Regions from separate parts of the Homo sapiens genome. Here all the other regions are linked to region 1. The links come from fine-mapping of genetic effects on plasma protein levels. A gene starts in region 1. Each other region holds a variant in brackets. All regions are shown on one strand. Distances are between the middles of the regions.

Region 1 (4,288 bases):
GCCATGCCCGCCCCTCCCCTGCAGCCGCGGGCCCTCAACCCAGCCTCCAGATGGTCCAAGATCCAGATTGTGACGAAGCAGACAGGCAATGAGTGTGTGACAGCCATTGAGATTGTGCCTGCCACGCCGGCTGGCATGCGCCCTGCGGCCAACGTGGCCCGCAAGTTCGCCAGCATCGCTCGCAACCAGGTGCGCAAGAAGCGGCAGATGGCGGCCCGGGAGCGCAAAGTGACACGAACGATCTTTGCCATTCTGCTAGCCTTCATCCTCACCTGGACGCCCTACAACGTCATGGTCCTGGTGAACACCTTCTGCCAGAGCTGCATCCCTGACACGGTGTGGTCCATTGGCTACTGGCTCTGCTACGTCAACAGCACCATCAACCCTGCCTGCTATGCTCTGTGCAACGCCACCTTTAAAAAGACCTTCCGGCACCTGCTGCTGTGCCAGTATCGGAACATCGGCACTGCCAGGTAGGCAGGCAGGAGTGCCCTAGGAGGTGCTGGTGTTGCGTGCGTGTGCTGGGGGGACCACACGGCTCACTTGCTGTGGGGAAGAGTTGCAGGCACCATTCTGCGTTCACGTTTGCTGAGGAGGAAGTTCAGAAGAGGCTCTGTGGCTGCATTCAGAGACCAGATCTCTGCTCAGGCTGAGGAGGCTCACCCCAGGGAGTGTCTGAACTGGGGCTGCCTGGCCCACCTCTGTGGCCCTGCTTCAGCGAGCTGCGGGGCACTGGCCTGGGTGGGCACCTGCCCCACTGTGACCAACCATCAGCAGTGCTGGAAGAATGGACATCTGGATGGGGGCCGAAGCCCAGGGCCCCCTCAGGAAGAACAAAGGGGCCAGTGCTTGGAAAAGGAGGCTTGGGAAGGGAGTAGAAGGGTGGGGTCCCCCATTCTGCTGTAATCGGTGCTTTCTGCCCCCTTGCACCCCGCATGTAGGCTCAGCCCCCTCTCCCCAAATCCCACTCCAGGGGCAGAAATCTCCTCTGGCTGCAGCTACTTAGCCAGGTTCTGGGTGGGTATGATGGAGGCCAGGTCCCCCCCGCCCCAGCAGCACTGCCCTTGTCACATTAAGATGGGGCAGCTGGGAGGTCAGAGGTTCTGTCTCAGGAACTGAGGTCTGGCCTTCTGCGATCCCAGGCTGAGCCGTGAGTGGTCCACGTATTCAGAAGACAGCCCCCTGCAGCCCCGGCCTTAGAAGGCTGTCCCAGGTCACACATCGAGTCAGGGTGAGGCTGTGGTGGATGGCATTCCCATCTGCCCTCTTCAAACCTCTCACCCCCTGGCTTCTGCAGGGTGGAGGCCTGGGTCACACAGGCAAGAGGAAAGGGGTCAACCTGGTGGCTCACTCGGGTTTCCATGACAGTGGGAAGGGGGGAGGTGGGCAGTGAGGTAGGCACGCAGCCCTCGCATCTGCTCTCCCCCATGGGTAGAACCTTCCTGATTGGCTGTGGGTTGTATCAAAAGACCTTTGACTGGGTGAGGCTGAGATGGGTGTGGTGGTTCCAGTGAGTCAGCCAGGTTCCCTTCCCCAGCCCTGGTCCCTGAGGGAGATGAGGACCGAAAGGCTTAGGTGACTTGATGGGGAGCACCCTTTCAGGGGCCCTGGAAGAAATGTTTGTAATTGTTCTGCTTTTTCCATGAGCTCTGGAGAGCACCCACCACCAAGCCCCCTGAAACCCACCAGTCCCTACAGCCTGGTCTTTCTCCCCACCTTCCCACTCCCAAACACATTTCCACAGCAAACTCCTTGGGAAGGGGCTTTTATATATTAAAAAAGAAGAGCTTTTATTGGGGGGAAAAAGTCAGTTTATTTGATGTGTTTCTTAGTAATGGAATTGTGGGGAAGAACAAAAGCGGGCTCTGGGACTCACATTGCTTTGGGGGAGGCTCAAGCTTCCCAGAATCCCTTGTCCCTCCCCACTTTGGGCACTTAGGGGTGGGGCTGGGGAGTGAGAGGGACAAGGCAGGGCATGATTGATTAAAGCTAACGAGCAGACAGAAGGCACTGGTGGGTCACATCTCGGGCCTGGGAGAGGGAGGGCGTGGGCCAGGCCCCATGTGACACCAGGGGCTCCTTGGCATCCAGGCTTGGCGTCTAGTCCTTTCCCTTCCCTTTCTTGGCTGTAAAACAAGAAAGAAATATTAATACCATATCAGCAGTTAGGCTGACCCATTGCAGACCGCCGGCTCCACAAACACCCGGGCATCAGGGAAGGAGAAGATTCTGCCCCCTAGTGGTTTCCAATCAGCTGACTCGGAAGCAGGGGATGGGGCAGCCATTGTGATGTGGACATGGGACATCCCCAGCTTCCTATTTCCACTTGGGATCAGAAAACCTTCAAGTTTCCAGTCCTAGTCCTGGTCACAGCAGCCCTGGGCATCCTCAGCCTCCTCACCTGAGAAGCGGGCAGATTCACCCCTGCCCTGCTGGCCTCGCTGGGCTGAGTCACGAGTGAGCTGAGAGGCCCAGGGTGGGCCTTGACCTCCTCCCAACACTAGAAAGGGCAGAGCTGACCAAATGCTGCCCGTGGCTGGAGAGCTGACAAAGGCAAGCCGTTCCAGGACACTCTCCCTGGGTCCTAAGCCAGATGCTCCAATGGAGTAGTTTGAGTTGGTCCCTATTTGGGCCAGGGAGGATTTATGTCCCCAGCATCACCTGCGGCCTCTCTTGTAGTGCCCATCTTCAGACTTTTCCAGGCAGGGAAGCCAAGTGAGGCGATGTCAGGAAGCCACTGGCCAGGACTCAAAACTTAAGGTTTAACTTGGAATTGTCCCCTCACAGGCGGGGGGGGGGGGGGGCAGCCCCCCGCGACAGCCCCACCCCCTTCTCCTTTCGCTGACCTTTGGCCTTTGCTTTGGTCTTGGGGGTGCAGGGCTTGGTGACGCGGATGGTCTCCTGGCACTGAGCATTGTAGCGCGCCTTCTTCAGGGTGCCTTGGCGGACTTTGGTGCCTGTGCCCCCATCACACGCACCCCAGTTCTCAAACTTGTACTTGCAGTCGGCTGGCGAGAGAGCGGCCCAGGTCAGCGCTGCGCGGCCCGCGGCCCCGCCCTCCGCCAAGGGTCCGCCCAGGCTTCGGCGAGGCTGTGCCCCCCGTCTCCTGCCCTCTGACTGCGCCCCGCCTCACCTCCAAACTCCTTCTTCCAGTTGCAGGGCACCCTGCACCGGATGCGCTGGGTCTGGGCCCCGCAGGTGCCCTCGCGGAAACCCACGCCGCAATCCTTGCTGCTGGGGGTGCAGGGCCCCCAGGCCCACTCAGCGCACTCGCTCCCCGGGCCGCCCTTCTTCACCTTATCTACAACGCGCGAGGAACAGAGTTCAGGACTGGGGCACGGGGAGACTCCCTCGGGAGCCGCCTTCCTGGGGTTCCAGGCTAGGAACCCAGGCGGCCCAGCCCAGAAGTGGAGGGGCCTCGCCTGCCCGTCCCCAGCCCTCCTTCGATCATCCCCCATCACCTTTCTTTTTGGCGACCGCGGAGGTGAGCGCCAGCAGGGCGAGGAGGGTGAGGAGGAGGAAGCCTCGGTGCTGCATCCTGAGGGGAGAGCCCGAGTCTGAATCCCTGGCCCGTCCCCTTCCCCACCGGGGGCCGCGTGCAGGGCCCTCCCACCTCCGCGTGCTCCACTTTCCAGGCCCCAAGTCGGGCTGCTAAGGTGGCGGCGGTGGGAAGACTTGGGGCGGCCCCTCGCCGCTAGCCCGGACGCACCGCTAAGAGGCGACTCCCCGGGGGACGCCTCGAGCCCAGGACGCAGCTCAGACCCCCACCCCCGCCTCCAGCCCCCAGCCCCTAGATCGGCCGCGGCCGGGCGGACCAGGGGCCGCCGCGCGCTCACTCGCTCGCTGCCCGCGCTGCTTCGCTCCCTCCCGCGCCGGGCCCGTCCCGCTCCGGCCGCCGCGGCCCCTTTTGTCTCCAGAACCGGTCTGAGCCGGTCACATGGGCCCCCGCCCCCTCTCCCCACCCCCCCAGGGAAGGACCCGCCCCGCCCCCTCCCCTCAAACCCGCACCGCCCCCGACCCCGGCGTCCCCGCCCCCGCTCCAGCCCGCGCCCCCCGCGCTTCTACTCCGGCGTCCGTGTTCCCGGCCCCGCGTCCTCGCGTCTCCCCGCCGGTGCCCTCTGCGCTGCGACGGCGGCCTCTCCCGGCCCCATCTTCCGAGCGGTGGTCTCCCGACCCCGGGCCCCGTCCCGCCCGCGCACACCGGCCCCCGGCCCACTCCCTGCGCCGCCGCCCGCTGCCCCCATCCCAGGTCGTCCCCTGCCGTACGCCAAGGCCCGGGCCGTTCTCA
Region 2 (4,313 bases), 670 kb before region 1:
CTTAATAAATGTTAATTGCTATTATTATCATTTTCACTATATTGTATTTTTCATGTCTAGAAATTCCATTTGGATCTTTTTAATATCTTCCACTAATCTCCTAATCATATTCATGTTTTCTTTACATACTTAAGCATATTTATATGATTTAAAATAACTATTTTAAGGTCCTTGTTAGTTAATTCCATCATCTCTGTCATTTCTGGATCTGTGTTTCTATTGATTAATTTTTCTCCTGGTTATGGGCTGTATTTTCCTGCTTCTTTTAATGTCTGGTAATTTTATTTTGTTTTGTTTTGTTTTTGAGACAGGGTCTTACTCTATTGCCCAGGCTTGAGTGCAGTGGTGCGATCACAGCTCACTGCAGCCTCAACTTTCCAGGCTCAAGCAATCCTCCCGCCTCAGCCATTAGAGTAGCTGGGACCACAGGTGTCACACCTGGCTAATTTTTTAAATTTTTTGTAGAGACAGGGTTTTGCTCTGTTGCCCAAGCTGGTCATGAACTCCTGGGCTCAAGTGATCCACTTGCCTTGGCCTCCCAAAGTCCTGGGATTGTAGGCATGAGCCACCATGCCTGGCCTGTCTGGTAATTTTGAATTGGATGTCAGACTTTGTGAATTTTGCATTGCTGAATGCTGGATTTTGTTAAATTCCTTTAAAGATTATTGAATTTTGTTCTTATATAGCATTAAATTACTTGCGGATCGATTTAATCCTTTTTGCTTTTAAACTGTTGAGAACTCTACCCAGTGCCCGGTGTGTTTTGAGGTCTCTTCCCTATGGCTGGTAGAAGTTTGAATTATCCTTAGCCCCTTGTATACTCCAGAAATTGTTTGGCCCACTGTTTTCTGGTGGTTCTTTTTCCAGCCCACACATATGCAGAATTTGTAGCCAAAGATTCTGGAGCTCACTGAACAACTTCTTCCTCTCTTGGATTCTGACCTGTAAATACTGGCTGCTCCAGCCTCCCTAAACCCCAGTCTCTGCCTCCTCAACTCAATAACACTGCTAAGCTCTTTGACAATCTCTCTCCCTATACTGTTGCTTGGAAACTGGCTCTCAGAATCCACAGCCCCCACTGCCTATTGCCCAATGTCTGAAAACTGTTGTTTCAGATATGCTGATTTTCTCATTGTTAGTGGCAAGAGGGCAATTCCCTTAGTAGATACTTCTTCACAGATAGAAGAGGAAGTACCTATCATTATTTTATCAAATGAAATATATATATGTATGTATGTGTATATATGTATATATTGAAAATTAAATTCTAATTGAAAATAAACTTGGAGAAGGCACTTTTGAGCCGATATCCCTAAACAGAAGTAAAGATTTACATTAAGAGAATATCAATCTTTGCCAGACTTAGAAAATTCAGATTAATATTCCTATACAGAAAAAATTAGCAAAGTGAGAAGTGTAATTTTAAAGGCTTTTAAAATTCTAATATAACTTTTGCTTCCAAGAGTCTAAAGTTGCTTAGATACCAAGAGGTTTGTTACAGTCTTCATGAGATTATCTAAAATTTGGACAAGATAATTAGCATCAGTACTCAGTCATGCAGAAAAGATATCATATCCTGTACTTGCTAAAAACTGGAATAAAATATTTTTTGTCAAAAGGGACCAGGTCCTTAGAGTTCTACAGGTGGCTTCATTTTTAGATATGTTATGCTCTTGTTTTGCTACCTCCCAGAAGAGTTACTTTCCACTTGATAATGCTAAAGTATGCACATGACATTCTAAGGAAGTTATCTGCAGAAGAATAATGCAGTAGGAGTTCCACTG[A/C]GTAGGTAGGTACCTGGCATTATAATTGATAAAATGGGGCTTAATAAATCCTTTCCTTTAGAACCTTGCCGCCAAGAGTTTTCACTAATTCCGGATTAAAATTGGAGATTGACACATTCTGGTTTAGAAAGATGTTCTGGAGTTTCCTAGAAAAAGCTGAGAATACATTAAAGCTACTTAACCAATTATTTTAGGAACACCTAGACACAGATGTTGCATTTAGTCTAAGAAATCTGAGGCTGTCTGATTAAGAAGGATAACAATAAACAGCCAGCATAAAATCTAGGTCTTGTTTATGGCACAAGGAGAAACTGGGGGAATTTGGAGCTGCTTATTCTTAGCAGCTGGATGAGTCACTGGCAGCTGCTATTAGAAAGATAAAGAAACCCACATCTGCTAAGAGTCCAAATGCTATATGAATCCCTCGTGATAGTAAATACATTCTTGAAGAGGCCCCACTTCTATATCAGGAAAAAAGTTAAGGCTATCTGAAGACTGTTTTCCATAGTTATCTCCATATGTTCTATCACAGAAACTAGCTCTAGCCATATTCTTCAACATGCAGCTGACCCTTGAACAACACAGGTTTCAGCTGTGCAGGTCCACACTTTTAGGTGGATTTTTTTCAACCAAATATGGATCGAAAATACACTATTCTAGGGATATGAAGCCCTGTATACGGAAGATTGACTTTTCACATATGAGAGTTCCACAGGACTAATGTAGGCCTTGATTATGCGTGGATTTTGGTATAAACAGGGGTCCTGGAACCAATCCCTGCATAGACTGAGAGACGACTGTACTAGGTGGTCTAAAACAAATATTTGCTGACTGAGTGAGGGACTGGGAAAGATAACCTCTGATAACATAGCACGAGCTTTACCTATATACTCACAGTTCCCAGTTTTGTTTACATAGAGACCAATGGAATAGTTTTTCTGAATTACTTAACTTAAAATTGAGTCCACATTGGTTTTTGCCTATTAGTGCATTTATTCTGTAAGGGAAATGATACGATCCTCAGTACACTAAGTACTTCTTTCATAATACTGTAATGGAGATGCATGATCTCCAGAGTTATATGTCAAAGAGGCAATGATTGAAGTAAAAATAGTAGAAATAGCACATCAGCATATTAGTAAATCTGGGTTCAATTTCTAGCTTTGCTACTAATTCACCATGAAATCTTTCTGCAAGTTACACAATTTCATTATTTACAAAATGGGCACAATAATACCCACTTTACCTATTTCTTAGGGCAGTGGAACTAATAAGATATTGGGTGGAAAAGTTTTAGAAAAGATTTAGTAACTACATATAAAAGTTTAATAGCTATATATTTAGTAGCTATTTAGAAAAGTTACAGTTTCGTAGCAGTAGCATTGATTAGAGCATGGTGGGGAATCTCATAAATTCAAAAGCAGGGAGACTACCTATTCACTGACTATAACCTCAGTGGGGAGGGGAGGGGAAGGAAGGAAGGGAGGGGAGGGAGGGAGGGGAAGGAAGGAAGGAACGAAGGAAGGAAGGCAAGAAAGAAGAAAGAAAAAGAAAAGCAAGCAAGCAAGAAATTGTCTTAAAGGTATTTATGAAAACACATAATATGAAAGTAGGAGACCAGGCATGGTAGCCCACGCCTATAACCCCAGCACTTTGGGAGGCTGAGGTGGACGAGTGGCTTGAGCCCAGGAGTTTGAGACCAGCCTGGATAACATAGCGAAACCCCAACTCTATAAAAAATAGAAAAATTAGCCACACATGGTAGTGCACAAATATATTCCCAGCTACTTGAGGTGGGAGGATCACCTGAGCTTGGAAGGTCGAGGCTGCAGTGAGCTGAGATTGTGTCATTGTATTCCTGCCTGGGTGACAGAGTAAAACCCTGTCTCCAAAAAAAAAAAAAAAAAAAAAAAAAAAAATTGAAATTTATTCTGTGGCTATTACTTGAAGGCTTTTAAAAAATATTCTTACCCAGTGGCCCAAGCCAAAAACTTGGAAATTACCACGGTCTTCTCTCTCATCTTAATGCCAAATCCAATCACCAAATCCTATGGATTCTATCTCTGAAAGTGCCCCTTCTGTCTCCATACTGCCTTAGTGTTGGGTCTAATCTCTCACTCAACTACTACCAGACTTCTATGTTCCTTGTCTCTAGTCTAGGCCATCTTCTACACTGCCTTTTGAATGATCTTTCTAGAGCTCAGATATCACCACACCACTCTCCTATCTAAAAGCCTTCAAATAAGATGGGGCATGGTGGCTCACATCTGTAATCCCAGTGCTTTGGGAGGCTGAGGCCTTGAGCCCAGGAGTTTGAGACCAGCCTGGGCCACACAGCAAAACCCCGTCTCTACAAAAAAATTTAAAATTAGCTAGGTATGGTAGGCATGTACCTGTAGTCCTAGCTAGTTGGGAGGCTGAGTTAGGAAGATCACTTGAGCCTGGAAGCTCAAGGTTATAGTGAACTATGATCATATGATCATGCCACTGCACTCCAGCCTGGGCAACAGGGTCTTTTTTTTTTTTTTT
Region 3 (4,313 bases), 1.3 Mb before region 1:
CTGCAGCCTCTGGACTAGGTGGGACTATAGGCACACGCCACCTCTCCTGCCTTTACCCCATTCTTTATAAGGGCACCTGTCATATTCCACAATTATTTATTTTTATTTTTATTTATTTTTTTTTTGAGACGGAGTCTTGCTCTGTGCCCCAGGCTGGAGTGCAGTGGCGCAATCTAGGCTCACCGCAAGCTCCGCCTCCCGGGTTCACGGCATTCTCCTGCCTCAGCCTCTCGAGTAGCTGGAGCTACAGGCGCCTGCCACCACGCCGGGCTAATCTTTTGTATTTTTAGTAGAGACAGGATTTCACCATGTTAGCCAGGATGGTCTCGATCTCCTGACCTCGTGATCCGCCCACCTCAGCCTCCCAAAGTGCTGGGATTACAGGCATGAGCCACCGCGCCCAGCCGGCCAGGCTGGTCTTGAACTCCCAACCTCAGGTAATCCGCCCGCCTTGGCCTCCCAAAGTGCTAGGATTACATGTGTGAGCTACCGTGCCCAAACTGCTTTATATTTCTTTAGTTATGAGTGACATTGTGCAGCTTTACTATCTTTTCAAATGTTTATTTCCTTTTATTTCCCCCATTAAAGTATGGGAGAAAGATTTAGATAGAAATGCAGGGGTCCAGAGTGAGCATAGGAAATGAGAAGGGATGGGGATAGCAGACAGAAGAAAAGAAGACAACGATCCCTGACACCAAGGGTGCCTCCTCTTCCTCTTTCTAGGGCCTATCAGTTTATCTTCAGCTGTGCACAGACAGATAGAAGCCATCAACAGAGGTATTTCATGTCCTTCCAGACCAGAAGATTCAAGCTCCTTTTTTGGACTATGTCTTCATCACCTGCTGTTCCCACCAGACCTAAGAATTACCAGACAGGAATGGGATTCATGCCTGATGAGCACTGAAGGACCCTCAGCCTTTAGTTCCCCCTTTCATTTCCATTTTTTTCTTTTTTCCTCATTCCCTTTCTTCTTTTTCTTTTTCTTTTTTTTTTTTTTTTGACACAGACTTTCACTCTTGCCTGGGCTGGATGCAGTGGCGCGGCCTCAGCTCACTGCAACCTCCACCTCCCAGATTCAAGGATTCTCCTGCCTCAGCTTTCCGAGTAGCTGGGATTACAGGCATGTGCCACCACGCCCAGCTAATTTTTATGTTTTTAGTAGAGACAGGATTTCACCACGTTGGCCAGGCTGGTCTCGAACTCCTGAACTCAGATGATCAGCCCGCCTCAGCCTCCCAAAGTTCTGGGATTACAGGCTTGAGCCACCACGCCTGGCCCCTCCTTTCTTTTTTATCTTCCTGAAAGCCTTTCTTTTCTTCCCTTTTTTCTCATTCTTTCTTTCCCAAGAGCTCTTCCTCTCTTCTGCCCCATCTCATGCCTTCTCTCCCCTTCCTCTTTCCATCTTCTTTGTTTTATGTCTGTCTTTCCTTTGTATGGTTATATTATGGCCCTGAAATTTTATTTATAGATTATTTCACTATAGTTGATAAAAAAGAAGAAAAAAAGAATAAAGTTTTATGTAATTTTTTCTAAAATGCTAATGGATATATTGAAATTTCCTCTCTTGCCACTAGCTAAACAAAAATAATAAAACATATTAAGTAACTTCTTATTCATTGTAACCCACTGTTGAAATGTCTTGGACCATTAAATTTAATTTTTAAAAGGTTTTTAATTTACCCTAAAGCTTTATATTTAAACATTTAATAGACTGTGCAGAATTTTAACGTTTTATAATTTTGAACCTGTTATTCTGGACTAAATCTTCTTGAAGGAGAAACATGTCAGAGAATCACATATCTGTGCTAATATTTTAATATAATGCTTAAAATAGTTTCATTGTTATAGATGAGCAGTAAAGTTCCCAAGGAGGAAAAGGAAGATGTTCACTTACTCTCTTTCCCTTTGGCAGATTCAC[A/T]TATGCTGAGTTTACCACATCTTAGGAGCAGACAGCTTCTTTATGATGAGTTGGATGAAGTAAACCCACGTCTTCGAGAACCCCAAGAGCTCTTTTCCATTTTGTCTACCAAGAGGCCACTGCAGGCTCCAAGATGGCCAATTGAATGTGAGGTCATCAAGGAAAACATCCATCATATTGGTAATATGACTTACTCACAGTGGTCTTGCTATTCTGCCTGACTTTTTTTTTTTTTTTTTTGAGACGAAGTCTCACTCTATTTCCCAGGCTGGAGTGCAATGGCGCAATCTCAGCTCACTGCAACCTCTGTCTCCCAGGTTCAAGGGATTCTCCTCCCTCAGCCTCCTACTGAGTAGCTGGGATTACAGGCGCACACCACCACGCCCAGCTAATTTTGCATTTTTAAGTAGAGACGGGGTTTCATCATGTGGGCAAAGCTAGTCTCGAACTCCTGACCTCGTGATCCGCCCACCTTGGCCTCCCAAAGTGCTGGGATTACAGGCATAAGCCACCAAGCCCGGCCTTCTGCCTGACTTTATTACAAGATCTGAGAATGTTAAGTCCTACGTGCTTAAGTATAAGGCAGGACAGAGTCAACATTTATTTATTTATTTATTTACTGAGACAGAGTCTCACTCTGTCACTCAGGCTGGAGTGCAGTGGCGCAATCTCGACTCATGGCAACCCCCACCTCCCAGGTTCAAGTGATTCTCCTGCCTAAGCCCCCCAAGTAGCTGGGATTACAGATGCCTGGCCACCACGCCTGGCTAGTTTTTTTTTTGTTTTTTTTTTTTTTTGAGACTGACTTTCGCTCTTGTTGCCCAGGCTGGAGTGCAATGGCATGAGCTCGGCTCACTGCAACCTCCGCCTCGCAGGTTCAAATGATTCTCCTGCCTCAGCCCCCTGAGTAGCTGGGATTACAGGCATGTGCCACCACACCCGGCTAATTTTGTATTTTTAGTAGAAACGGGGTTTCTCCATGTTGGTCAGTCTGGTCTCGAACTCCCCAACCTCAGGTGATCCACCCGCCTCGGCCTCCCAAAGTGCTGGGATTACAGATGTGAGCCACCACACCCGGCTAGTTTTTTATTTTTATTAGAGTCAGCGTTCCTCCATGTTGGCCAGGCTGGTCTCAAACTCCTGATGCTAAGTGATCCACCCGCCTTGGCCTCCCAAAGTGCTGGGATTACAGGCATAAGCCAGTGCACTCAGCCTAGAGTCAACATTTATTAACTCACCCTGGAAAAAATTAAACTGTGAGAAACTGATATAAACTCACCAAAATCAAGTTACACTAATGTGTAAACTAGAATGCTTCTGAGTTTTTCAGAATGAGAGGATACCTTCCTAGAAGCCAAAATATATAAATACTGAAATCTGTTTTCTAGATTAACCTGTTTCAGTGGTTTTTTTCTTTTCTTTTTCATTTTTTGGAGAGAGGGCATAGCATCTTATCTAAAAATACAGGGGTGCTACCCTGTCTCAGTATTAATGTGTTTGGTTGTGTGGTATTTTTACCAGTCTTGGTATAATTGAAGACTACATATACCACGACATAGTTTTTACAGTTTTTAATTAAATATAAAATTAATTTAATTTTATATTTTGAGTTTATTGGAGTTTTCTTGTCGGAATGGTGGAGACTTTTTTATGACATTATGGGTCATACCTGTGAGCTCTTGGAGCAAGTACAATCTTCTGCATCCATTTTATGGATTAAGCATTTATGGAATTGGGTTGCATTAGAAAGTGGGGACTTCTCTAATTACCAGAACAAGTCTAGCAAACATCACGTATGTCTCTGCTTTATACTACTGAATAAACAACTGGATGTTCCTTTTTTTTTTCTGAGACGGAGTCTTGCTCTATCACCCAGGCTAGAGTGCAATGGCTCCATCTCGGCTCACTGCAACCTCCGCCTCCCGGGTTCAAGCGATTCTCCTGCCTCAGCCTCTGGAGTAGCTGGGATTACAGGCACCCACCACCGCACCCAGCTAATTTTTGTATTTTTAGTACAGACGGGGTTTCACCATCTTGGTCAGGCTGGTCTCGAACTCCTGACCTCATGATCCACCCGCCTCGGCCTCCCAAAGTGCTGGGATTACAGCCATGAGCCACCGCACCCAGCTGGATGTTCCTCATTTTCTGTCTCCCTGCTTTATAATATTCGTTCATATGTGTTGTTATATGCTAAGTACAGTGCTTGGTGCTAGAGATAGTAGTGATGAGCAAAGTGGAGAGTTCATGGACCCAGAGTTCATGAACTAGTGGGGAAGTTAAACATTTTAACAGACAATTGCATAGTGCTTGGTCCCTCTGAGCATACCTAACCCAGCTTAGAGATCAGCATAAGTTTTCAAAAGGAGTTGACAACTAAGCTGAGATCTAAAGGATG
Region 4 (4,313 bases), 750 kb before region 1:
CACCCTTGATCCTATCTTCTCCAGAGGCAGCACAGCATAGCATTGTGGTTAATAGCATGGACTTTGGAGTTAGATTGTTCGGGTCCAAATCCTAGCTTTGCCACTGACTTCAAGTTACTTGACTTTTAAGCTCTCCATGCCTCAGTTTCCCCATCTATGAAATGACAGTATGAACATTGCAGAGTTGTTATGAGTTAATGTAAAGTGCTTAGAACAGTGTCTGACCCATCGTAAGGGCCATCTGTTAGTACTTGCTATTATTATTTTAGAAATAAAGAAACTAGGGCTCAGTGAGGTGTAATCATTTTCTCAAGGAAACAGCTAGGAAGAGGGCTGAGATTCAGACCTAGGCCTAGCACAGGCTCTGAAGGTCCTGCAAGTTCCACCCTAGCAGGTGGGATCCAGCTGGTTTGTGAAGGACTTCTGATGTTAGGATTATTCACACCAGGTGACTGACAGATTTTCTATCTAAGTTAAACATACAGGTACCCTTCAGGCAGGCCACTTTAAACAGCACAGGGTAGTTGGGCAGGGCAGTTGTATTAGTGCAGAACTCTGACTTTGCAATCAGATGACCTGGCTTCAAAAACCTGGCTCCACTACTTGCCACCAGCATGACTTAGACAAGCTGTACAACTTCCCTGAACCTTGGTTTCCTTGTCTTAAAAGTGTAAGAACTACAGTACCTACCTAATGGAATTGTTGTAAAAGATCAAAAGAGGTAACATATACACTTTTCTGAAAAAAGTTAGCAAAGTGCTCAATAAGTGGTAGCATTATTTTATAATTATTAACTGATTAAAACTTGAAGTCCTGAAATTAAGGAATCTTTGAACTTAGCTAAAGCAATCAGCACAATGCCTGGTGCATTGCAGTAAACACCTGTTGAAGGAATGAATAAATAAAAACATGCCTCACACAGTGACCCAAATAAAAATTCATAGGGAAAAAGTTCTGGTTACTGTGTGAACACAAAGATAGGGGGTCTCCAGGCACAGGAGGCATTTCTGCAAAATTACAGGGGTATGAGGAGAAACCAGGAGTTGTAAAGTGTGAAAAAAGGAAAATCCCCTACGTGCTAGGTACTATAACTGTCAGTAAACATGATAAACCATGACCAGTGTACTACACTTCATGGGCTTGTTGGCCTTTGCACCAAGTGCTCAGTTCAATCAGCTTGAATATTTCTTTTCATAAGAATGTATCACTGATTTTCCTTTTTTTTTTTTAACAGAGTCTCACTCTGTCACCCAGGCTGGAGTGCAGTGGCACAATCTCGGCTCATGGCAACCTCTGCTTACTGGGTTCAAGCGATTCTCCTGCCTCAGCCTCCCGAGTAGCTGGGATTACAGACATGCATCACTACGCCAGGCTAATTTTTGTATTTTTAGTAGAGGTGAGGTTTCACCATGTTGGCCAGGCTGGTCTCGAACTCCTGACCTCAGGTGATCCACCCGCCTCAGCCTCCCAAAGTGCTGGGATTACAGGCATGAGCTACTGCGCCAGGCCATGTCACTGATTTTTCCATGAAAACCAAAGGAAGCCTAGGGTTCACTTCACAGAAATTCACTTTATTGCTGTTACAACTCTAGCATGAATACTACTGCTTTCAAGATAAGCACTGCCCTGACTCAAAATATTCTTCTGTTGGTTATATCCACTCTAATCCTAGAGAGTGTTAGATGAATTTACTTTAGCTAAGAAAATTAGTCAGAAATTATTGATTCCCAATATATTCAAGGGCTAACTCATTCTCATTTGTAGGAAAAGGATGTCTTTTTGACATCTGGTCTGCCTTCTTGCTGTGGCAAGTCCTGCTTCTGAAGCTCTGTGGGAGCAGCTTAGTCATTTCTACATCCTCCTTGCAGACCACCATGCGTGTCCACATTTGCTCAGAACTGTGGTGGAATATAGCTGTAGATCGGATACCTCTCCTCTTCCTGGGAAATGGTACCTTTGCCAGGATCACAGTGGTGTCACTAAAGAATACCCATGGA[G/A]GAGTGCCAGATGGAAGGAAGTGGGGCCATATATTCATTCCTTCAGAGAAAACCTTCCCTAAAGCCTGAAGTCAAAGACTTTTAGCTCTAAATTTATGGGGGATGAAATGGGGCTCAGTCTAAATTCATTTGTGTGAGTGCCTATATGTTGGTTGAGTGAGCTAGTGCTGGACAAGAGCTAAAGATAATGAAATGCTACAAGCCATGGGAGTCCCAGAGGACTGAACAGCCTCTAGTTTGTTGGCTGCATGATCTCAATAGTACTACCACAGAGGCCAGAGAATACCACAGCCCATGTGTGGACTCTCCAATTTTCAGCTGCAATTGTTTTTATGTTCTTTTATGCAGGGGTTGTGAAGGCTCACTCTAAATGACACTCATCCTCAGCCAGGCTGCTCTGCCAAGAGATGCTCGGAAGGACATGGATAGTTCGGGGCATGACCACACCACCCCTTCCAATCCCTGGGGCACCAAGGCTTTGTTACCAGGCCACAGCTGAGTAAATACTTCTCAGTGCTACTCTGTGAGGAGGGGGAAGGGAGTGAGGGACAGTGTGGGGGAAGGGAAGAAGGAGGCAAGACATCTGACGACTTCACTCCCCATGTAGCAGTTGGTATCACATGTCACAGAAAGATTGCTACCCTACTAGGGCCATGTTCCTGTCAAGCAAAGCCCCAGAAGAAGAGAAGGCTGTGTTATTCAATTTTATCTCCTCTGGCAGCACTGTTGTTTTATATTATAAATGGAGGGAAATGATAATTAGTTGACTGAATGGGAAATGACCTTACAAAAGGAATAAGAGGCAATGGCCTCGAATGACACCTGTGGGGTAAAGTATTTGGGCCATTATGAACACTACCCTTTGCCAGCTCATTACTCCCCAGAGCATCTTCAGTGTGTTCCAATGGGGGCAGAAAGCCCCTTTAGTTTTTTTTTGGTTTTTTTTTTTTTGAGACAGAGTCTTGCTCTGTCGCCAGGCTGAAGAGCAGTGGCGCTATCTCGGCTCACTGCAAACGCTGCCTCCCGAGTTCAAGCGAGTCTCCTACCTCAGCCTCCCGAGTACCTGGGACTACAGGTGTCTGCCACCATGCCTGGCTAATTTTTGTACTTTTAGTAGAGATGGGGTTTCACCATGTTGGCCAGGATGGTCTCCATCTCTTGACCTCGTGGTCCGCCCGCCTCGGCCTCCCAAAGTGCTGGGATTATAGGCGTGAGCCACCGCACCCGGCTGCCCCTTTAGTTTTATATTTTATTATGACTAAGCCAGACACCAAGCTAGAAATGTATTTAGTCTATTTCTATTTGGCAGTATCTTTGTTCTAGGCAAAGTATTAAATCAGACACAGTAACAATTTTATGGCAACGTTTAAAATGAACAAAAACAACTCTCCAGGAACTGTTTATATACAGCAGGTAAAGATTTAAAGAAATGCAGGCATTTCTAACCAGGATCTCAACATTCTACCCAGGGTCATGTAGGACATACCATGGCAATCTGATCAGGTTTTTAGGCTAACCATGGCCATCCTGAACCACCACTGGTGGCTTAAACCACAGGCCTGGTCTGATAAGAATCCCCTATACTGTGTCGAACCCTTGGGGGTCTGTTCATCACGATGGGGCCATTAGGGATTGGAGGACCAAGGCAAGGCTTTGTTCTGGGGGAGGTCCTGTCTTAGAAAGTGTGAGGATATGAAACACAGGCTGCATATGGCGAGGGTGGGCAGCCGTATGCATTGTGGAAGGAGGCACCAGTGCTAGGAGAAAAGAAAGCCTCTCTAGTAGCAACGGGGCTAGCTACTCTGGCATGGACACAGTTTCCTACCCATTATTGAGGAAATGGAAGGCAGTTTTGGACACTAGAATGTAGAGCAGGATCTTGGCACCATAAGCTCTCAAAGGCTCCGGCAGCCCATCAAAGAAGTGACTCCAGCCTAGAATTTGCACCACCACTCACGTGCTCATGCAGCTCCACCAGGTGTTACCACTTCCAGTTTTTCTTTGGAAACAGGAGGACAGGGTGGGCCCTTTGAAACGGACAACTCAGGGCCAAGTTATAATTCTCCTCCAAGAAGCAGGTGTTGTTACAAACTCCTGCAACCCATTCCTGTTCTTAATTGAACAGAAATGGTTAAACAGGCACAAGAGCTAAACTGGAGAATAAACCTTAATCCCTCCTAATGGTGACTAAAGGCAAGAGAAAACATCACACCCTCCCAATGGTGATATACCTCACTCAACCTTTGAAAAAGAGGCAGAATTTTAAATTTATTTCTGGGGGGTGTTTAAAGCCAGAATGAAGGTTTTTATGTTGTT
Region 5 (4,313 bases), 180 kb after region 1:
GAGCATGCAACCTACATCCCTCGAATGTGCAGTTCACAGTAGGGTTCGCACTCCTATGAGAATCTAATGCTGCTACTGATTTGACAGGAGGCAGAGCTCAGGCGGTGATGCGAGCTAGGAGTGGCTGTAAATACAGATAAAGCTTCCCTTGCTTGCCTGCCCACTGCTTGCCTCCTGCTGTGCAACCCAGTTCCTAACAGGTCACAGACCAGTTGGGGATCCTTGATTTATGATATTGGATAGCCTCTTACAAGGTATTAAAAATGATGTTTGCTCATAGAAAAATATACTAAAATGCCAGTAGACATTTTAATTAGAAGGATTACGGATGATTTTAATTTTCTTCTTTGCAATTTTCTATATTTTCCAAAATTTCTACCATCAATTATTATAATTAGATAAGAAGTTTATTTTTATTTTATTTTTTAAAATTTTATTTATTTATTTTTGAGACTGAGTCTTGCACTGTCGCCCGGGCTGGAGTGCAGTGGCACGATCTCGGCTCACTGCAACCTCTGCCTCCCAGGTTCAAGCGACTCTCCTGCCTCAGCCTCCCGTATTTATTTATTTTTGAGACAGAGTCTCGCTCTGTCACCCAGGCTGGAGTGCAGTGACGCGATCTCAGCTCACTGCAACCTCTGCCCCCGGGTTCAAGCTATTCTTCTGCCTCGGCCTCCTGAGCAGCTGGGATTACAGGCGCCCGCCACCACGCCTGGCTAATTTTTTGTATTTTTAGTTTCACCATGTTAGCCAGGATGGTCTCGATCTCCTGACCTCGTGATCCACCTGCCTTGGCCTCCGAAAGTGTTGGGATTACAGGCGTGAGCCACCGTGCCTGGCCAATGTCTATTTTTTTTTTTAATTCTAGCCATCCTAGTGGGTATGAAGTGGCATCTCACTGTAGTTATGATTTTCATTTCCCTACTGACTAATGATCTTGGGCATCTTTTCATTTGTTTACTGGTCATTGGTATATCTTCTTTGGAGAAAAAAATATTTAAATCCTTAGCCTATTTAAAAAATAGTTTATCTGGGCCGGGTGTGGTGGCTCACACCTGTAATCCCAGCACTTTGGGAGGCCGAGGCAGGTGGATCACGAGGTCAGGAGTTGGAGACCAGCCTGGCCAACATGGTGAAACCCCATCTCTACTAAAAATACAAAAATTAGCTGGGCGTGGTGGCGAGCACCTGTAATCCCAGCTTCTTGGGAGGCTGAGGCAGGAGAATCATTTGAACCCAGGAGGCAGAGGTTGCAGTGAGCCGAGATTGTGCCATTGCACTCCAATCTGGGCAACAGGGTGAGACTCCATCTGAAAAAAAAAAAAAGTTTATCTTTTTATTGTTGAGTTGTAAATGTTCTTTATAAATTCTGGACACTAGTCCTTTATCAGATATATGATTTGCAAATATTTTCTCCCATTCTGTGGGTTTTCTTCTCACTTTATTTATTTTTTTTTTTGAGATGGAGTCTCACTCTGTTGCCCAGGCTGGAGTGCAGTGGCGCGATCTCGGCTCACTGCAAGCTCCACCTCCCGGGTTCATGCCATTTTCCTGCCTCAGCCTCCGAAGTAGCTGGAACTACAGGCACCTGCCACCACGCCCGGCTAATTTTTTTTTTTTTTTTTTTTTGTATTTTTAGTAGAGACAGGATTTCATCATGTTAGCCAGGATGGTCTAGATCTCCTGACCTCGTGATCTGCCCGCCTCGGCCTGCCAAAGTGCTGGGATTACAGGTGTGAGCCACTGCTCCTGGCCTCTTCTCCCTTTTTTGATGGTCTCCTTTGAAGCACAAGTGTTTACATTTGATGAAGTTCAATTTATCTGTTTTTTCATTTTAGTTTGTGCTTTTGGTGTCATATGTAATAAACCATTGCCTAATTCAAGCTCATGAAGATTTACGCTTATGTTTTCTTCTAAGAGTTTTTGTAGTTTTAGCTTTTACATTTATGTCTTTGATCCATTTTGAGTTAATTTTTGTAGACGGTTTGAAGTAGGGGTCCAACTTCATCCTTTTCCGTGTGGTATCCAGTTGTCCAAGCACCATTTAAAAAAAAGACCATTCTTTTTCCATTGAATTGTCTAGACATCCTTGTTGCAAACCAATTGACATAAATCTAAAGGCCAGATGACATTTTTGTCTTAATTTCTAGCCTCATCAGACCTCTTAATTTGCCAAGCTTTCCCCATCCTTGATGCTTTTGTAGAGACTGGTTCCTTGCCTGACATCCACCTGTCTTGGTAGCTGACCCTCCTCATTCTCCAGACATTACCTGTCTCCACAGTTTTCCTTTGTCCCCTAGGCAGTCAGATTCTGCGGTCTAGGAGCATTTTGCTCATACCTCTGTCATTGCTCTATTCACATTGTATTGAAGTTATTTATTCAT[T/C]AGTCTGCCTGGATACACTCAGAGATCTCCAAAAGCAACCAAGTCTTACTTCTCTTTGAAGCGCATAGCACAGGACCTGGCACTTAAGAGGTATTTTGTGAACGGTAGTTGAATGACCATTGACAGAAGTATCTGCAAATTGGGACTCTGCTGAGGACTTCAATGGCAAGAGAAAAGGGCCAATTATTGGATCCCCGCTTCCCCTCTTCTCTCTTTCTCCAAGTCCAGAGAACAGTATTCAGGCATTTGTTCAAGAAGTTTTAAATAAGTATCTATTATGTGCTAAGCTAGATGCTAGGGATCACGTGGTGAGCACAAACAGCCATGCCCCTTCCTTACTGATGTGTAGAGTGGGTGATGTGTGTAGTAGGTGAAATCAACATTAGCCAAATAATCATATAAACATGAAAAATGGGAGCACCTGTCGTCAAATTGTCTATTGTGTGGTCTTACCTGCCTGCTCACGTGTTTATTGATAATTTGGCCACCTGGCTCACTGACTTTCTCTCCTGCTGTCACTGTCATGGTGAATTTAAGATCCACATACATGGCCACGCATCATCTTGCCTCCATTCTTTTTTTTTCCTTTTTGGGACAGAGTCTCACTATGTTGTCCAGGCTGAAGTGCAATGGCACGATCTTGCCTCACTGCAACCTCTGCCTCCTGGGTTCAAGTGATTCTCCTGCCTCAGCCTCCTGAGTAGCTGGGATTACAGGTGTGCGCCACCACGCCCAGCTAATTTTTGTATTTTTAGTGGAGACGGGTTTTCACTGTGTTGGCCAGGCTGGTCTCGATCTCATGACCTGATGATCCACCCACCTCAGCCTCCGAAAGTGCTGGGATTCCAGATATGAGCCACCGCACCTAGTCACCTTGCCTCCATTCTTGATGCCTCCATGCCATGATGCCTCCTCCACTCCACCTTAGCCATAGAGCCCCACACAAACCTCATCATAACCACAGCGCTGCTCAAGTTTCCCTTTCAATCATCCTGTTAGACTGTGGACACAGGTATTCCTTACTCAGTTGTCTTAGAACTCCCATTTCAGCAATTTCCTACCCCTGTTGGGGTCTTCAGTCCACTGACCCCCCCACCGCTTTTTCACTGTCCTTCACCACCCATGACCCAGGCCCTTCATTTCCTCATTATGCCCCAGTGTCCTCATCGCTCTGTAATTGCTCCGTAACACCGTTATAATACTCTTGCCCTGCTGCACTCATCTGCCACACCCCAACCCTGCTTCAACTCAAGGGAGAACTTAACTTTTCGTGCCTCCATCTGGGCACTGGAACATGGCTTGAAGAAAATACCCACAGCTGCCCAGACACGCCTCATTTTATACTGAAGTCTGCCAATAAGTGGCTGTTTTTGCATTGCCCAACAATCCTACTTCAGTATCTCAGGCACTCTGCCTCTCTTCAAGCCGTTTTATACCTTCTCTTTCTTTAACTCTAATATCCTTCTCTTGCCTGGTTCTCAGCTGATGATCTCATCTTCCTATTCACGGAGAAAATAGAGGCCCTCAGAATGCTCATTACCCACTGCTAAACTTACCCACTTCCAACCGCTGTATGTGCAGGCCCTGCCCTCCCTCGTATTGCAAATTGCAAACCATCCTTATGCGTGTACAATGCCCATCCCTCCCCTGGGGTCCTGAATCCCGTTTGCCCTCACCTATTCAAGGACTTTGATGAAATGATCTCTCTCATGAATCACTGACGTCTCCCTCTCTATGGCGCTTTACCTTTCAGCACACAGGTATGCTGTAATACTTACCATCTTCAAACAAAACACAAACCAAAACAGAAACACCTTCCGTAGAACTCATTGCTCCCTGGCTCTTTGCACTAGCTCTGTGTTCCTTATTGTAGCAAAATTTATCAAAAGAGTTGTCTACGTGTCCCTCCAGCCCCATTTGGTCATTTCC
Region 6 (4,313 bases), 1.6 Mb before region 1:
GCCAGGCACGGTGGCTCACACCTGTAATCCCAGCACTTTGGGAGGCTAAGGCAGGCGGATCACAAGGTCAGGAGATGGAGACCATCCTGGCTAACACAGTGAAACCCTATGTCTACTAAAAATACAAAAATTAGCTGGGCATGGTGGCGGGCGCCTGTAATCCCAGCTACTTGGGAGGCAGAGGTTGCGGTGAGCCAAGATCGCACCATTGCACTCCAGCCTGGGCAATAAGAGCGAAACTCCGTCTCAAAAAAAAAAAAAAAGTCCTAACATTCAAGTCAAGCCCCAGTGAGGCTCATGGCCACAGCAGGAAGACAGCAGGATACTGCCTTTCCAAGTCAGAGATAGGGTTTTAGGTATTGCCTTGGGCTGAAAGAGAGCTGGATCCAGCTTTACCTGCTCCTCTCACACCCTCTGTTCCAGCCAACTGCCCCTTTCCCAGGCTTACCAAAGACCTTAAGCACCTTCCTCATGAGAATCAGTTTTCCATACTCTACCATCAAGTGTCTAAGTCACTAAGCCTCTGTTGACTGTTGCCCTGAGCCAAATGCTGTGGACACAGTAAGTAAGACTCGAACCTTCCACAATGACCTCATCATCTACCAAGGAAGACAGACCTTTCTCAACAGCTATGTCATAAGGGCTGTGGTGGAGATGCAGGGTGAGTGCTATAGAAGCTGAAAGATGTGATTTATTCCAAATTTACAGAGTCGGGAGGGTAGCCGACTTCAGGGAGAATGTGCCTTTTGTCCAGAGCCTTTTGAAGGATGAGTGGGGAGTGGGATTTCCATAATTGGGGGGATGAGCATTCCAGGAAGAGGAGCAGCATGAGCAAATCAGAGAGGGAAGAAAGTGCAGCATGTCTTGGGAACACCCGGCTGTCTGAGGCAGATGCAGCCTGGGCAGTCTGGAGGGATTCAGGGGGAGGGAACACTGGACTGCTAAGCTGAGGCCACACATAGGAGCTGACGCGCCATTTAGAGCGCCTAAAGGGCACTTGTAAGGAAGGTATGGAAGACCTTGAATGCCAGACAGGGAAATTTGGACTTAAGCTGTAGGGAGCAGTGGAGAGTCCTTGGAGGTGCAGGAAGGGAAGGAGACAAGGAACAGAAGGCTTTCTGGTGGGCAAAGAACTTGACCTTCGCCTCCTTGATACCAACTTTTGGCACCTGCTCTGCCTGCTCTGCATGTCATGTTCATTTCTGTGGCAATTCCGGTATCTGACCATCTGGATGGTGACTAACACCCACCTATTCTGACCCTATGGCAGGTGTTATGTCCCCTGGTGGCCTCCGGCATACACCAGCCCTGCCTACTGCTCAGAGGCCAGCAGGCATGATTTTATAGTTGAATTGGTTGCCAACTTTTAAAAATTAGGGGACATCACTTAACCTGGGTTTTCTGGGGCTGTACTTTCACATCGCAAGAAGCCGACTGGCAGCTGCTCCCTTTGGGTAGAACATGTAACCTCCAGTTTCCAATGGGGGCACCTCTTTTTAATCTCTAGGACTGAGAATAAACAGCAACTGCCCATTTATCATTTCACCAGGCTGCCCGAAAGGCCTCTGAGTTTGCAAGCCACAGCCACATTTAGCTTAGATGTATGCCCCCCCTAGATTCCAGGTCCCTCCAGGCCCAGGTGCTAACCCCTTTCCCAGATCCCATAGCCTGCCCACAAGATCCAGCACCCCACTTATTCCCATATACTCTCAGGCCTGCCAGATGGCACTGCTGAAAGAAATGAGAAGGCCCCTTAGGGGATTAGGCAGCAAGCCTAGAAGAAATTTAATATAC[C/G]TTTACTTTCCCTTCTATCACCCGAGAGCTCTGTAAACGCGACTGTTCCTGATTCCCTACTGTGTGGCAGGCCTTCTAAGCACAGCTCAAGAAATGCAGCTGAATGAGACAGGATCCCTGCCTTTGCTAGGCCTGGGGAGCTGGAAAAACTCCAGGTAGCCCTGGCGCAGATGCCACTCAGAATGAATGAAATGACAACACAGCTCATGCGTGAAACTCAGCAATCCACATACATTCTACAACCAAATGTTCAACACTCTCCAGCTAGTCAATGAGGCAGCAGGCACAGAGTTTCAAAACAGGGCTGATGTACAGTGCCTGACACTCATTCCCATTAGCAACGGCTGCTTGGGACAGATGCAAGGAAACTGACTCCACTACTTTGATCGTAGAAACAGTGAGAGAGATAGAAAAGAAAAGGTTGATCAGGGTAGAAAAATAGAAAAGAAATATAAGACCAGGCACAGTGGCTCACGCCTGTAATCCCAGCACTTTGGAAGGGCAAGGCAGGTGGATCACTTGAGGTCAGGAGTTCGAGACCAGCCCGACCAATATGGTGAAACCCTGCCTGTAGTAAAAATACAAAAATTAGCCGGCTGTGGTGGCATGCGTCTGTAGTCCCAGCTACTCGGGAGGCTGAGACAGGAGAATTCCTTGAACACAGGAGGCGGAGGTTGAAATAAGCAAAGATCACGCCATTGCACTCCAGCCTGGTCGTCAGAGTGAGACTCCATCTCAAAACAAAAAGAAAGAAAGAAAAAAAATGTAAGTGTGGTGCCTGTCTTCAATGAGCAAACAGTCTATTTGGGGAGCAGAACATGGAACCTTAGAGATTAATGAAGCCACTGACTGTAAGTGTGGGAGGAATGTGAATACAGGTGGGGGTCCAGGTGGGGGGCCTGCTGGATAAGGGGTGCTAACACTAGGTTTTCCTTTTTTTATATATATTTTTATTTTTTCACTTCCATCTCCTTTTCCTGATAAGCGTGGGGTTTTCCAAGAGGATTTTTGGATGGTGAGGTAGCCTAGGATGGCACACATAATCAAAATTCTGGTTTTGACCAAAAAAGTTGTGGATCTAATAAAAACTGGAATTGAAGAAATGATAAGAGATATTAAATTCCAATTTATTTATTTATTTATTTATTTATTTATTTATTTATTTATTTTTGAGTCCGAGTCTCACTCTGTCGCCTAGGCTGGAGTACAATGGTGTGATCTCGGCTCACTGCAATCTTTGCCTTCCAGGTTCAAGTGATTCTCCTACCTCAGCCTCACAAGTAGCTGGGACTACAGGCGCGCACCACCACACCCAGCTAATTTTTGTATTTTTAGTAGAGACGGGGTTTCACCATATTGGCTAGGGTGGTCTCGAACTCCTGACCTCACGATTGGCCTGCCTTGGCCTCCCAAAGTGCTGGGATTACAGGCATGAGCCACCGCACCCGGCCGGTAAATTCCCACTTTAATAAGAATGAAGTTCTAAAACCCAAAGAAAACTCTGATTCAGAAAGCCAAAGATTCATCCTGAGAATGGTTTTTCTACCTGGCAAGGCAGCTCCTCATCTCTAAGTGATCATACAAATGAATGAAGGGGCGTGCATGTCAGGGAAACTCATCGTGATTATTAGAATGGAAAGGAAAAACAAGACAAGAGGAGGAAGAGGTAGCAAGAATATGAACCACTGGCAGGCACCCTCTGGTTTAAGTTCTGGCAAACCTAACAGCTGTTTTGTTCAGGCTGCAGAGACTTCCAGCAAACTAAATTTCTACATCCTTAAGACACTCATTTTTCTCCTTGTTTTCTTACTCTTACTCTCTCGTCTACACTCTGGTTGCCTTATCCAAATAAGGATCTTGACACTTTATAACACGAAGCCATTTGTACCTCCCTAATAAGTAAATCAGCCCATACCATTTGGACAAAATTGTAACGGCTTTTACCCACCGCCCTATCCCACCCTATATTGAGTCCCATCCTGCACCGTGTGACTTGAGCCTTCAAATCCTTCTCCCCAGGCCCCACCAGGCCTATCCCCACCAGCTTCCCCTCAGCTCACCTACTTCCTCCTGCATCTTCCCAGAAAGAGTCCTTGGGTCATCTCATTCAGCCACTTCCACACTTCTTTGTTTATCAGAAACACACACACCGGCAAGAGAACCCTTTCTTCCCACAAACCAAAATCCAAAAATGAAATGAACCCACGCTGCTCTGGCTGAAGCAAGGATGGAGGTCCAGAAGCCTCTTTCACTTGGTCTTGGCACTACCCCCACATCCACCCCTTACCACAGTCTAAGAAAAGCACTGTGCAAGTCAAACTTCTTCATTTTACAGGTGTGAAATCAGCACCCCAGGGGAAAGGGTCTGGCCCAAGGACATACAGTGTTAGAAACAGGCCAGAAGCCAGGTTTCCAAACTCACCAGACCAGGACTCTTCTCATGGCCCCACGCTGCATCTTCATCATCTTAATTTTTTTTTTTTTTCTTGAGATGGAGTTTTGCTCGTGTTACTCAGGCT
Region 7 (4,313 bases), 1.5 Mb before region 1:
GAAAATAAACAGTAGAAGACTGGAGAAAGTGAATATTAAGAAAGACACACATGTAAGACGCAAGGGGAAAAAAGCATGACTATACAAAAGGATATTTACAGTAAGGAGATACAACACAGGAAGTGGAAAGATAATCACAGAAAAACCACAACATGTGTTTTTAAAATGCAAAGCCCCTGGGAAGAGAAAGCAAATGATACAATAATGCCATTCACTCTGGCATCCTGTGCATTTGGTTTTGCTCTTTACTCTTTTTTTTTAACTTTAAACAATTTGTTATGAGAGTAACAAAGATACGGCTTATGATCTTGTAACTCTAATGCTCTAAATCAGAAACAGATGGTGCCTAGTGTACCCTGTTTCCTAGAAACTGCAGAACTTTGAGGACAACACCCTCTCTGCACTGCACCACTGATTTCAGTTCCTTCACAGATACTAATACATGGCTAAATAACGTGGTTGCTGAGTATTGTATTGGAATATCTGTTTTCCTTGCTCGGGAATCTTTTTGAAGTTTAAAACTTTTCTCCATTTTTATTCCTTTTTCTGATTCAAAAAGTAATTCCTTTTTATTGTGACAATTTTTAAAAATATGGAACAAAGAAAAAAATAAAAATCCCCATTCCCTTCCCACCCAGCAATAACCAACGACCACTGTTAACATGTTGACAACATTCTTCTAGTTATTTTTCTGCACACACAAACACACTTCATAGAAAACTGAATGTATAGAAATTGTTTTCTAATTGTTTTGTTCACTGAGCAATAAATACTTTACATTTTTTCACATCATCAAATGTTTATGATAATTGCCAGTATTCCATCATATTGGAGAAGTTAATTTATTTATCTTCCCACTTTTTCATTCAACAAATTCTTTTATTTTTTTTTGAGACGAGTCTCGCTCTGTGGCCCATGCTGGAGTGTAGTGGCATGATCTCGACTCACTGCAACTTCTGCCTCCTAGGTTCAAGCGATTCTCCTGCCTCAGCCTCCCAAGTAGCTGGGATTACAGGCATGCACCACCACGCCCAGCTAATTTTTGTACTTTTAGTAGAGACGGGGTTTCACCATGTTGGCCAACTGGTCTCAAACTCTTAACCTCAGGTGATCCACCCGCCTCGGCCTCTTAAAGTGCTGGGATTACAGGCGTGAGCCACCATGCCTGACCCTCTTTCAACAAATTCTAATTAACACCTACTATTTGTCAGAAATGTGCTCAGCACTGGATACACAGTGGTGAGCAAAGCAGGCAAAGATCTTGCCCCCATGGAGTTTAAAGTCCTCTATTGACCTATAGTTTGCTTGAGAACTTTTTTTATTTTAAAAAAATAGCACAGTGAGGCTGGGCGCCGTGGCTCAAACCTGTAATCCCAGCACTTTGGGAGGCCGAGGCAGGCGGATCACAAGGTCAGGAGTTCGAGACCAGCCTGGCCAACATGGTGAAACCCTGTCTCTACTAAAAATACAAAAATTAGCCAGGTGTGGTGGCACACACCTTTAATCCCAGCTACTCAGGACGTTGAGGCAGAAGAATCGCTGGAACCCAGGAGGCAGAGGTTGCAGTGAGCTGAGATCGCACCACTGCACTCCAGCCTGGGTGACAGACTGAGTGAGACTCCGCCTCAAAAAAAAAAAAGCTCAGTGAAATCTGGCAAACACTACCTCAGCTAAGTGACTAAGCTTAACATAATCAGCGAAAAGTCACGCAGACAGCATGTACCCCTGCTGCTGTGCTGGGACAAGAATGGCACTTTACCTCTGTGGTCTTCCTCTCATAACCCTAATCTAATCATGATTTTTTAAGAGAAAAATCAGACAAAAGACATTCTACAAAATACTTGTTCAGTACTTCTCAAAACTGTCAAGGGGAATTCCTGACTAGCTTGGGCAACATAGAGAGATTCCATCTCTACAAAACATTTAAAAATTAGCCAGGCATGGTGGCATGTGCCTGTAGTCCCAGCTACCCAGGAGGCTGAGGCGGGAGGATCACTTGAGCCTGGGAGATTGAGGCTGCAGTGAGCTATGATCATGCCACTGCACTCCAGTCTGAGCGACAGAATGAGACCTTGTCTCTTAAAATTGGGGGAAAAAAAGTATGGATTTTAGTTAATAATACTGTATCAATATTGGTTTATTAGTTTGGGCATGGTGGCTCATGCCTGTAATCCCAGCACCTTGGGAAGCTGAGGTGGGCAGATCACTTGAGGTCAAGAATTCAAGACCAGCCTGGCCAAAATGGTGAAACCCCATCTCTACTAAAAATACAAAAACTAGCCAGGCATGGTGGCAGGCATCTGTAATCCCAGCTATTCTGGAGACTGAGGCAGGAGAATTGCTTGAATCAGGGAGGTGGAGATTGCACTGAGCCGAGATCAGGCCACTGCACTCCAGCCTGGGTGACAGAGCGAGACTCTGTCTCAAAAATATATATATATATGTATTGGTTCATTAGT[T/C]GTGACCAATGTTTCATACTGTTACAGATAGGAAAGGGGTCCCGATCCAGACCCCAAGAGAGGGTTCTTGGATCTCACACAAGAAAGACTTCAGGGTGAGTCCGCAGTGCAAAGCAAAAACAAGTGTATTAGGAAAGTAAAGTGGTGAAAGGACAGCTACTCCATAGACAGAGTAGGATGTTCCCAAAAGTAAGAGGAGGAACGCATCCACCCTAGGTACAAAGCTTGTATATATGGGGAGATGTGCTCTGCTACAAGGGTTTGTGATAAAGGATTAAGTTTTTTTAATTACTATATTTTTCAAAAATCAATATTATTATCTTTAAAGCAAAATTAGGAATGCCTTTGTTCTCCAGATATCGGGATATCTGGACACTCCCAAGTCTGGGTCTGTTCAGTAAGCATTATTAATTTGTCCCCTTAGCCGTAAACATCTAGAGGTTAGGAATGCCTAACTTTCTGAGAATGTAGCTCAGCAAGTCCTGGCCTCATTTTTCCAGCCCTCACTCAAAATGGAGTCGCTCTGTTTCGAACGCCTCTGACAATACTAACATAAACTGTTAACAATAGGGGAGCTGGGGAGAGAGAATAGATGGAGTATACGGGAAATCTCTGTACTACCTTTACAATTTCTTTGTAAATCTAAACCTATTCTAAAATTAAATGTTTATTTTGGGAAAAAAAGCAAACACTGTGACAGTCATCCTTGTTTTTTGTTTGTTTTTGAGTCTCGCTCTGTTGCCCAGGCTGGAGTGTAGTGGCGCGATTTCAGCTCATTGCAACCTCCGCCTCCCAGGTTTAAGCGATTCTCCTGCCTCAGCCTCCTGAGCAGCTGGGATCACAGGCACGTGCCACCACACCCGGCTAATTTTTTTGTATTTTTAGTAGAGACAGGGTTTCACCATGTTGGCCAGCCTAGTCTCGAACTCCTGACCTCAGGTGATCCACCCGCCTTGGCCTCCCAAAGTGCTGGGATTATAGGCATGAGCCACCACGCCCGTCAATCCTTGTATCTTGAAGCATATCTGTGATTGTTTCCTTAGGATAAAACTCTGAGTGAAATTGCTGAGTCAACTGTACTGTACACATATTTTTATCCACTAGAGATTGTTCTTTTGAAATGTTATAGATGTTTTTCTGACTTTTTAAAGATGTTTATACCTATACCTTTATCTTAGCATTTTCCTAGTTGTGAACCAGGAAACCTAAGAGATCATGAAGCCCAGAGGCCTCATTTTACAGATGAGGAAACTGAGGCCCAGAGAAATGAAGTGACTTGCCAAGGCCAAGTGGTTAGTTAACAGTGGGAACTGGAACCCCTATTTGTGTCAACAGCAATCCCTACTGAACTGTCCCGGGGTTTGGCCAAATGAAGTAAAATTTTCTGGCTCATGGTGGAATCAGTGATCAACAGCCAGACCTGCATCTTTCTATTTCCTGTAGGTAAATACAAGGGTTTGCTTCCTTTGTTTTGGATATGGTTGCTAGGAGCTAAAAGCATTTTAAAATGTTTAAAGAATGGATTCAGACACAACTAATAGAATTGCCTGACTAAATGCCTGGGCAAATCACTTTTTCTTTTTGAGGTACTCCTTTCTTTTTTTTTTTTTTTTTTGAGACAGAGTCTCACTCTGTCGCCCAGGCTGGAGTGCAGTGGCATGATCTCAGCTCATTGCAACCTCCGCCTCCCGGGTTCAAGCAATTCTCCTGACTCAGCTTACTAAGTAGCTGGGATTACAGGCACACACCACTACACCTGGCTAATTTTTGTATTTTTAGTAGAGACTGGGTTTCACCATGTTGGTCAGGCTGGTCTTGAACTCCTGACCTCATGATCCACCCGCCTTGGCCTCC

Direction of the effects. Alleles are on the strand shown, and positions count from the first base shown. The strength of an association depends on the size of the effect and on how common the allele is.
In carriers of allele C in region 2, the plasma level of the protein whose gene starts at base 3,926 in region 1 tends to be higher than with A alone (moderate association).
In carriers of allele A in region 3, the plasma level of the protein whose gene starts at base 3,926 in region 1 tends to be higher than with T alone (moderate association).
As copies of A replace G in region 4, the plasma level of the protein whose gene starts at base 3,926 in region 1 goes down (moderate association).
As copies of T replace C in region 5, the plasma level of the protein whose gene starts at base 3,926 in region 1 goes up (moderate association).
With allele C in place of G in region 6, the plasma level of the protein whose gene starts at base 3,926 in region 1 is higher (moderate association).
For the plasma level of the protein whose gene starts at base 3,926 in region 1, C is the high allele of the variant in region 7 and T is the other (moderate association).

The links. PIP is the posterior inclusion probability: the model's chance that the variant is causal. The UK Biobank Pharma Proteomics Project read protein levels with antibody pairs (Olink). The fine-mapping took linkage between variants from a reference panel, not from the people measured, so its PIPs are less certain.
Region 2: its variant is fine-mapped to the plasma level of the MDK protein (UK Biobank, PIP above 0.99).
Region 3: its variant is fine-mapped to the plasma level of the MDK protein (UK Biobank, PIP above 0.99).
Region 4: its variant is fine-mapped to the plasma level of the MDK protein (UK Biobank, PIP above 0.99).
Region 5: its variant is fine-mapped to the plasma level of the MDK protein (UK Biobank, PIP above 0.99).
Region 6: its variant is fine-mapped to the plasma level of the MDK protein (UK Biobank, PIP above 0.99).
Region 7: its variant is fine-mapped to the plasma level of the MDK protein (UK Biobank, PIP 0.92).

What each region holds. Positions count from the first base shown.
Region 1 is chr11:46,381,307-46,385,594 of GRCh38, reverse strand. MDK (midkine) reads right to left here and starts at 3,926. Exons shown (of 5, transcript NM_002391.6): 1 at 3,837-3,926; 2 at 3,462-3,538; 3 at 3,134-3,301; 4 at 2,847-3,008; 5 at 1,794-2,126. The coding sequence starts at 3,537. The coding sequence ends at 2,101. It overlaps CHRM4 (cholinergic receptor muscarinic 4), which reads left to right. Exons shown (of 2, transcript NM_000741.5): 2 at 1-1,806. The coding sequence ends at 477. RefSeq lists silencers at 2,942-3,236, 3,212-3,261, 3,682-3,791, 4,222-4,288.
Region 2 is chr11:47,054,319-47,058,631 of GRCh38, reverse strand. All of the region lies in intron 3 of CSTPP1 (centriolar satellite-associated tubulin polyglutamylase complex regulator 1), which reads right to left. Among named protein-coding and RNA genes, the nearest start is that of CSTPP1, 120 kb to the right of the region's middle. RefSeq lists an enhancer at 828-1,377. The variant A/C (reference allele first, on the strand shown) is at 1,785.
Region 3 is chr11:47,702,328-47,706,640 of GRCh38, reverse strand. It overlaps AGBL2 (AGBL carboxypeptidase 2), which reads left to right. Exons shown (of 19, transcript NM_024783.4): 5 at 724-777; 6 at 1,007-1,120; 7 at 1,913-2,098. Among named protein-coding and RNA genes, the nearest start is that of AGBL2, 11 kb to the left of the region's middle. The variant A/T (reference allele first, on the strand shown) is at 1,919.
Region 4 is chr11:47,128,891-47,133,203 of GRCh38, reverse strand. All of the region lies in intron 3 of CSTPP1 (centriolar satellite-associated tubulin polyglutamylase complex regulator 1), which reads right to left. LOC124902671 (a long non-coding RNA gene) reads left to right here. Exons shown (of 2, transcript XR_007062666.1): 2 at 2,346-4,313. Among named protein-coding and RNA genes, the nearest start is that of ARFGAP2, 46 kb to the left of the region's middle. The variant G/A (reference allele first, on the strand shown) is at 1,998.
Region 5 is chr11:46,203,279-46,207,591 of GRCh38, reverse strand. No RefSeq gene overlaps it. Among named protein-coding and RNA genes, the nearest start is that of LINC02710, 14 kb to the left of the region's middle. The variant T/C (reference allele first, on the strand shown) is at 2,385.
Region 6 is chr11:48,022,434-48,026,746 of GRCh38, reverse strand. The region is part of intron 1 of PTPRJ (protein tyrosine phosphatase receptor type J); the gene reads right to left. Among named protein-coding and RNA genes, the nearest start is that of PTPRJ, 44 kb to the right of the region's middle. The variant C/G (reference allele first, on the strand shown) is at 1,795.
Region 7 is chr11:47,859,361-47,863,673 of GRCh38, reverse strand. No RefSeq gene overlaps it. Among named protein-coding and RNA genes, the nearest start is that of NUP160, 13 kb to the right of the region's middle. RefSeq lists enhancers at 445-494, 1,880-1,949. The variant T/C (reference allele first, on the strand shown) is at 2,460.